Linked DNA regions of Homo sapiens. The protein of the gene in region 1 purifies or fractionates together with the protein of each later gene. This does not show direct contact. Each region holds a gene or a part of one and is shown in the gene's direction. Other genes may lie near its edges.

Region 1 (3,824 bases):
AGAGGGGCAGATCACTTGCAGCCAGGAGTTCGAGACCAGCCTGGCCAACATAGCGAAACCCCGTCTCTACTAAATATACAAAAATTAGTCAGGCATGGTGGCATATGTCTGTAATTCCAGCTACTCTGGAGGCTGAGGCATCAGAATCATTTGAACCCAGGAGGCGGAGGTTGTAGTGAGCCGAGATCTTGCCACTGAACTGCAGCCTGGGTGATGGAGACCCTGTCCCCCACAAAAAAAATATTTTAAAGCATATGTGTACAAAATATATTAAAGCATATGTGTTATAAAATGTTTGTAACAGCTGTATTTGTCATGATCAAAAACTGGAAAGAACCCGAATATCCATTAATTACAATCGAATGGATAAACAAATATTGGTATATCCATACAATGTAATACTACTCAGCAATAAAAAAGAAATGAACCATTCAAACATGCAACTATGTGAATCAATTAAAAAATAATTATGCTGAGTGGAAATAGCTGGCCAAAAAAGAGTATGTAGTATTTGATTCAATTTTTATAAAATTATTCATAATACAAACCAATATATACTGAACAAAAGAGGTCAATGGTTGCCTGGAATGGTGAATTGAGGAGTGGAATCTGGCAGAGACAGGTGGAATGGCAAAATTTTAAAGGTGCACCTGGAAAGTTTTGGGAATGATAGACATGTTCATTTTCTTGACTATAGTGATGGTTTCTCAGGTATATACATATATTAAAACTTAAACTTGTACATGTTAAATATGTCCAGTTTATTATATGACAATTATACTGAATAAATCTTTTACAGAAATAAGACAGCAGAACAAGATTATTATATTGAATTCATCATGACATTTCATGTCTTGAAAGCTATTAAAATTTTAATGAAGAGTAGACAAAATTAGAATCAAAAGTAGAGTTTACTTAGAATGTCTAGTTGTGATTGTATTGTCTAACCAATTTGCTCAGTTATTTACTCATAAATTATGATTGTTATTAAAATACACTTTTATGGTAAACTAAAGTGGTTTTCAAACATGGTCATACACAAGAATCACATGTAGGAAATTATTAGACATGCAGATTTCCAGGTTTTTCCCCTGCCCCCAGGAATTCTGAATTGTAGATGTGGATTGTGGGGTCTGGGAATCTGCAATTTCAGGCAGTTTTTGATGTGTGTATCCATAGACCACGCTTGGAATTGCTTCTTAGCAGAACATTGTTTACATCAAAATTGCATGAACTGAGATGAATGCAGTGGAAGACTGGTGCCATGCTATAATGGTGTATTTTCGATCAAGTTCTACCTATACGTCCACAAACCTGCTAGAGAGAGCAGTTGACTTATTTGGAAGGAGCACAAAGTTTGCATTTTGTGTGTTGTCGGATATTTATAGCACCCGCCCTCATTAGAAAATTAAAAGTGTACAGATACCACAAAGAATTAAGGTTTATAAGGGCTTCCTTTCCTCCTCCTCTTTCTCTTCTGCTTCTTACTCTTTCCCTTTTCCTCCTTTTCATAATATTTATTTACCTACATTTGATGTTTTTTGTAGTAATCATGTTTTTACCGGGCCATTCAATAATGAAAGGACAGGGGCAGAAGGAAGAAGGGACCACCTTCTACTTTATCAGATACCTTTAAAAAAATAAACACACAGTAAGAGCAATGTAATTCACCACTTTCAAGTTTGAGGTCATGGAGAGCAGAAAAGCCTTTCTAGAAAGTATTTCTTTGTGCCTTTCCAGAGATAGTTTATATCATCTATCAAATTATGGCACTTCTTACCTTCTGAAATACTTATAAACTGCCAGGAAGTAATCTTCTGTGGAAACTTACTCCATTAGAAATGATGCCATTGCATTGGGAAGGAACTAAACTATCGGTTTACTGACCTGATCCCCACCATAATCAGTGACAAGCATGGCAAGACTCACAGCTGTTGTCCGGGGCCATGCCTGGGGCCATGGAATAACATTTTTCTTTGAGTAAGTTAAAAGAGTTGTGTAGTATGAAGCTCATGACTTCAGAGTCTTGTGCTGGATATGCTAACCAAAAACGAACTGATTTCGCCTTAGGGTCACAAGATTGTGGGGCTACGTGTATACATAGTGGAGTCCAGTCTTCAAGATGGTTGCCAGTTTTAACTAGGCTGTGCTGATTGATCTGCCTCTTTAGAAAAAATAGCAGAACTTTAAATTTAGGCAATATTATAGTCCAGATCTTGAGTATGTGGTTTGATAATTTATATGAATACATAAATGTGTGTATATGTATATACATATGTATGCATATGTGTATATAATATATATGTTTTATATATGTATGTGAAAGTTGTGAAGAAATGTACACTGTCGTTAGCATCTTAGTCTATTTGAGCTGCTATAACAGAATACTGTACACTGGTTGGCTTATACAAAAACAAATGAATTTCTTATAGTTTTGTAGACTGGGAAGTCCAAGGTCAGTACACCAGAAGGTTCAGTGTCTGGTGTGGGCCTGCTTTTTGGTTAATAGATAGCTGTCTTCGTGCTATGTCCTCACATGGCAGAAGGCACAAGGGAGATCTCTGGAATTTCTTAAAAGGACACTAATACCACTTATGAGGGCTCTATCCTCATGGTGTAATCACCACCCAAAGGACCTACCTCCTAATACCATAACATTTGGGGTTAGGATTTCAACATAGGAATTTTGAAGAGACATACACATTCATTTTATAGCAGATAGATTATACTGTAGAACTAAATAACAGAGTTGGAATCCTTCACAAAATTATAAAATATTTATGAACCTGAAGAGTAGGTGTCACTATAATTGAAAAAAAAATCAAATTTTGGGTGCTTGGAGAATCATGGTGGTTTTATTGAGTTTTGTACCTTAAATTTGTGCAGTTGAGTGTTTCTTATTTTCTTTTTAGTATTTATTGTTTTGCTTTCCACAGACATGAAGCCATTATTATATCAGGAACCGAAATGGCCAAGCATATCCAGAAAGAAATACAGCGAGGTGTGGAATCATGGGTTTCCCTTGGAAACAGAAGACCTCACCTCAGTATAATTTTAGTGGGAGATAACCCAGCAAGCCATACATATGTCAGGAATAAGATAAGAGCTGCCTCTGCTGTAGGTGGGTGTGTGTTTTAGTTGTAATTACTACTAAATATGTTTTCTGTTTTTACTTCAAATTGTGATAATTATGAATGATAATTATCAAATAAGTGCCATTTGAATTGCATGTATTATTATTAAAGATTATTCAGTTACCAAAGCTTATGTTAATTTCATATGATTTTTCTTCAAATTTCTTATAGGGTTAATTCAGTGTGTTTTATATTCTATGGCAAGATATGCAAAGGATAGTTTGCATCTAAAAGGCCTGCTTTCATTATATTTGCTTTAATCAAATAATAAACCTGGCTTGTTCACTCTGTTAAACTTGGCCTAATAGTTGCATGGTAGTGATATTTTTATTCTCTTCAAATCTACTAACAGTAGCTTATCTCAAACAAGTACAAATTGTCACCTGGCATTCCAGGCCAAAGAATACATGTGGATCAAGAGGAAACACCTGTACTATTGGAGAAATCCTTCCTGATGATGCATGGAACATCAGAACCTTTCACGGCAGTAGGAACAGTCCCACACTGTGTCAGACACTATTGATGAAAAACCATATTCAGTTAGTCAAGTGACCTTCTCTACCTGTTTTTCTTCTAGGTATTTGTAGTGAGCTCATTCTAAAACCTAAGGATGTTTCTCAGGAAGAACTTTTGGACGTAACTGATCAATTGAATATGGACCCAAGAGTCAGCGGTATATTAGTTCAGTTA
Region 2 (3,824 bases), on another chromosome or scaffold:
TATTTGTTTGTCTGAAAAAGACTTTATATCTCCTTCATTTATCAAACTTAGTTTCACTGGATACAAAATTCTTGACTGGTAATTATTTTGTTTAAGGAGGCTAAAGATGGGATCCCAGTCACTTCTGGCTTGCAGGGTTTCTACTGAGAAATCTGCTGTGAATCTGATAGGTTTTCCTTTATAGGTTACCTGATGCTTTTGCCTCACAGGTCTTAAGATTCTTTCCTTCATCTTGACTTTAGATAACCTGATGACCATGTGCCTAGGTGATGATCTTTTTGTGATCAATTTCCTGGGTGTTCTTTGAGCTTTTTGTATTTGGATATCTAGATCTCTAGCAAGACCAGGGAAGTTTTCCTTGATTATTCCCTCAAATAAATTTTCTAGACTTTAAGATTTCTCTTCTTCCTCAGAAGCACCATTATTCTCATGTTTGGTCATTTCACGTAATCCCAAATTTCTTGGAGGCTTTGTTCATTTTTTTTAATTAGTTTTTGTCTCTGTCAAGTTGGGTTAATTCAAAAGCCTTGTCTTCAAGCTCTAAAGCTATTTCTTCTACTTGTTTGATCCTGTTGTTAAAACTTTCCAGTGTATTTTGCATTTCTCTAAATGTGTCTTTCATTTCCAGAAGTTGTGACTGTCTTTTCTTTATGATATCTGTTTCTCTAGAGACTTCATCCATATCCTGTATTGTTGTTTCAATGTCTTTAAATTGGTTTTCACCTTTTCCTGGTGCCTCCTTGAGTAGCTGAATAATGAACCTTCTGAATTCTTTTTCTGGCAATTCAGATTTCATCTTGGTTTGAGTCCGTTGCTAGAGAGCCAGTGTGATCTTATGGGAGTGTTTTAGAACCTTGTTTTATCATATTACCAGAATTACTTTTCTGTTTCCTTCTCATTTAGGTAGACTGTTTCAGTGGAAACATCTGGAACTCAAGGGCTGCTGTTCAGGTTCTTTTGTCCCATGGGGTGATCCCTTGATGTGTTGCTCTCCCCCTTTCTCTAGGGATGGGGCTTCCTGAGAGCCAGACTGCAGTGGTAATTATTGCCCTTCTGGGTCTAGCCACCCAGTGGGGCTGCTGGGCTCCAGGCTGGTGCTGGGGAATGTCTGTAAAGAGTCCTGTGATATGATCCATCTTCAGGTCTCCCAGTCTTGGATACCAGCACCTGCTCCAGTGGAGGTGGCATGGGAGTGAAGTGGACTCTGGGAGTCCTTGGTTGTAGTTTTGTTTAGTGCAGTGGTTTTCTCAAATGCTGGTTACACCAGCAGTAAAATTGCCACATGGACAGACTCAGGACCTCTGGTTAGCCAGGATGTTGCAGGCAGTGGCATTAGCTGTTGTTTGCTCCTTTGAAGCAAGGTTGTTCTGTTATGAGTTGCTGTAATGGCTTGAGTTGGTTGGCCTCCAGCCGGGAGGTGGTGCTTTCAGGAAAGCGCCAGCTGCAGTAGTAGAAGGGGATATAATTCTGCCCTACATTGGCCAGGATGAGTACTCGGGTTTCTTAGGCAATGGACAGGACCACAGAACTTCCAAAAGATTATGTCTTTTTTCTTCAGCTACCAGGGCAGGTAGAGACAAACCATCAGGTGGGGGCAGGGTTAGGCGAGTCTGAGCTCAGACTCTCCTTGGGCAGGGCTTCATGTTAGTTTCTTTATTTAGGGCTGATGAGAAGGCGGTGCAGAAAGGTAGCTCGTGCAAGTCTTTGAGGTAAAAAGTGGTGGAGCTGGAATTCAAATCCACCCCTACACCCACACATGTAAGCACTTTGGGGAATCTGCCCAGTGAGTTTAAAATACAATTCCATTTGCTCTGGTTCTATTAAATTCCCCTGGCCAATATGCACTGATAGGCCAGGAGCAGGAAAGGCATTCCTACTGTCTCTGAGCCTCCCTGCAAGCAGCTTGAGGAATATATACCTGGCCTGTGGGTCTCAGCAAGTTCCCCAACCCTAGAGGCCCTTCAAACCACGCAGGGAAGGAGAGCTTTGGCGGGATGTGGCCAAAACTGACTCAAGCCTGGTGTACAGACAATTTGGGATGGCACGGAGTTTTTGTCATCCACTGGGAAGTTGCTTAATCTTCCTCCAGTCCAACACATTTCCCCTTTTTAAATTCTAGTTAAAAATCAGACTGTGCCCCCTACCCTCAATAAAAGAAATGAAAGTTTGAACTCAAATATTATGAGGCAGGCCAGGCACGGTGGCTCATGCCTGTAATCGCAGCACTTTGGGAGGCCAAGGCGGGTGGGTTACCTGAGGTCACAAGTTCAAGACCAGCCTGGCCAACATGGTGAAACCTCATCTCTACTAAAAATACAAAAATTAGCCAGGCATGGTAGTGAGCGCCTATAATCCCAGCTACTTGGGAGGCTGAGGCAGGAGAATCACTTGAACCTGGGAGGCAGAGGTTGCAGTGAGCTGAGATTGCACCAGTGAACTCCAGCCTGGGCAGCAAGAGCAAGACTCCATCTTGGAAAAAAAAAAAAAGAAAAAGAAATATTATGAAGCAGACCAGACACAGTGGCTCACGCATGTAATCTCAGCATTTTGGGAGGCAAAGCCAGGTGGATCACTTGAGGCCAAGAGTTCGAGACCAGCCTGGCGAACATAGTGAAATCCCACCTGTACTAAAAATACAAAAATTAGAGCCGGGTGTGGTGGCACACACCTGTAGTTCCAGCCATTCGGGAGGCTGAGGCATGAGAATTGCTTGAGCCCAGGAGGTGGGGATTGCAGTGAGCCAAGATCATGCCACTGCACTCCAGCCTGGGTGACAGAGCAAGACTCTGTCTCAAAAAAAAAAGAGAGAGAGAGAAATATTATGGAGCAGTACAGAAATAGACAGTGGAGTGATGTTGACCAGGGGATGGGGCAGGGGGATGTGGGGAATTTTCATACAATGGGTGTAAAGTTGCAGTTATACAGATGAGTAACTTCTGGAGGTATGTTGTACAACATAGTGCCTGTAGTTAATAGGAAGATATTTACTTCAAAATGTGTTCAGAGGGCAGATCTCATGTTATATCCTTACCTCCCCACTGCCCCCCCCAAAAATAGACACAAGCAAACTTTATGTTTGTTACTGGATTGTAGTGACAGTAACATGAGTGTATGCATATGCCCAAACTCACTAAATTACATCCATTATGTGCGGCTTTCTGCAAACGAGTTATACGTCAATAAAGCTAGGGCAAAGAGGGAAAAAATGCAACCAGAAAGAAAAGACGTTGCCTACAGAGAAACTACAGTTAAACTGACAGGTTTGTCCGTATCAAAAATAGAAGCCAGATGACAATGGAACAAAATGTTTAGCAGATAACAGGCACTCGGCAAATGAGCAATAAACCTTGCTACACCTCTCAAAAAAAATGTTATGGAGAGATAATCAATCACTCTCTCAGTGTTTGTTTTCCTTTCTCCTGGAGTGCAGTGTTACTCACTCCCAAGTCCCTAGGGCCCTAGAGAAAGTTCTCCTGGGAAAATTAAAGAGAGACAGAAACAGAAAGCTGTCACATGGGAAAACAATTCTAATGTTTTTGTTTCTCCAATGAGGAAAGTAACAGAGAAGCAGATTTTGCTAAAGAATTAGTACTTCTTAACATTCCAGGTTTTCCCCAAGACAGAAAGGGAGGGTGGGAGGCAGTGGGTTCCTGTCCTGGGACGTGTTCACCGAGAGCCTGGACATCACGTGGTAGAAATGTCCCAGAGGCCATAAGGAAATGCCTGTCCGATGGCCTTGCAGCATCCTCCAGGGCTCTGAGAGGTACTCTAGGATGAGGCACTGGCCCTTTGCTGGGTGACTGTCTCTGACCAGGTAATAGGAC

What was found.
Region 2: the proteins of MTHFD2L (region 1) and ZHX2 purify together in Homo sapiens (affinity purification with mass spectrometry; one large-scale study listed by BioGRID and IntAct). This does not show direct contact.

Annotation. Positions count from the first base shown.
Region 1 is NC_000004.12:74,171,570-74,175,393, forward strand, and holds part of MTHFD2L (bifunctional methylenetetrahydrofolate dehydrogenase/cyclohydrolase 2, mitochondrial), read left to right. Parts: intron 1-208; exon of another isoform or gene 209-1,915; coding exon of another isoform or gene 1,916-1,980; intron 1,981-2,936; coding exon 2,937-3,121; intron 3,122-3,711; coding exon 3,712-3,824. UniProt on the Homo sapiens protein: Bifunctional mitochondrial folate-interconverting enzyme that has both NAD/NADP-dependent methylenetetrahydrofolate dehydrogenase and methenyltetrahydrofolate cyclohydrolase activities.
Region 2 is NC_000008.11:122,966,368-122,970,191, forward strand, and holds part of ZHX2 (zinc fingers and homeoboxes protein 2), read left to right. Parts: intron 1-3,824. UniProt on the Homo sapiens protein: Acts as a transcriptional repressor. Represses the promoter activity of the CDC25C gene stimulated by NFYA.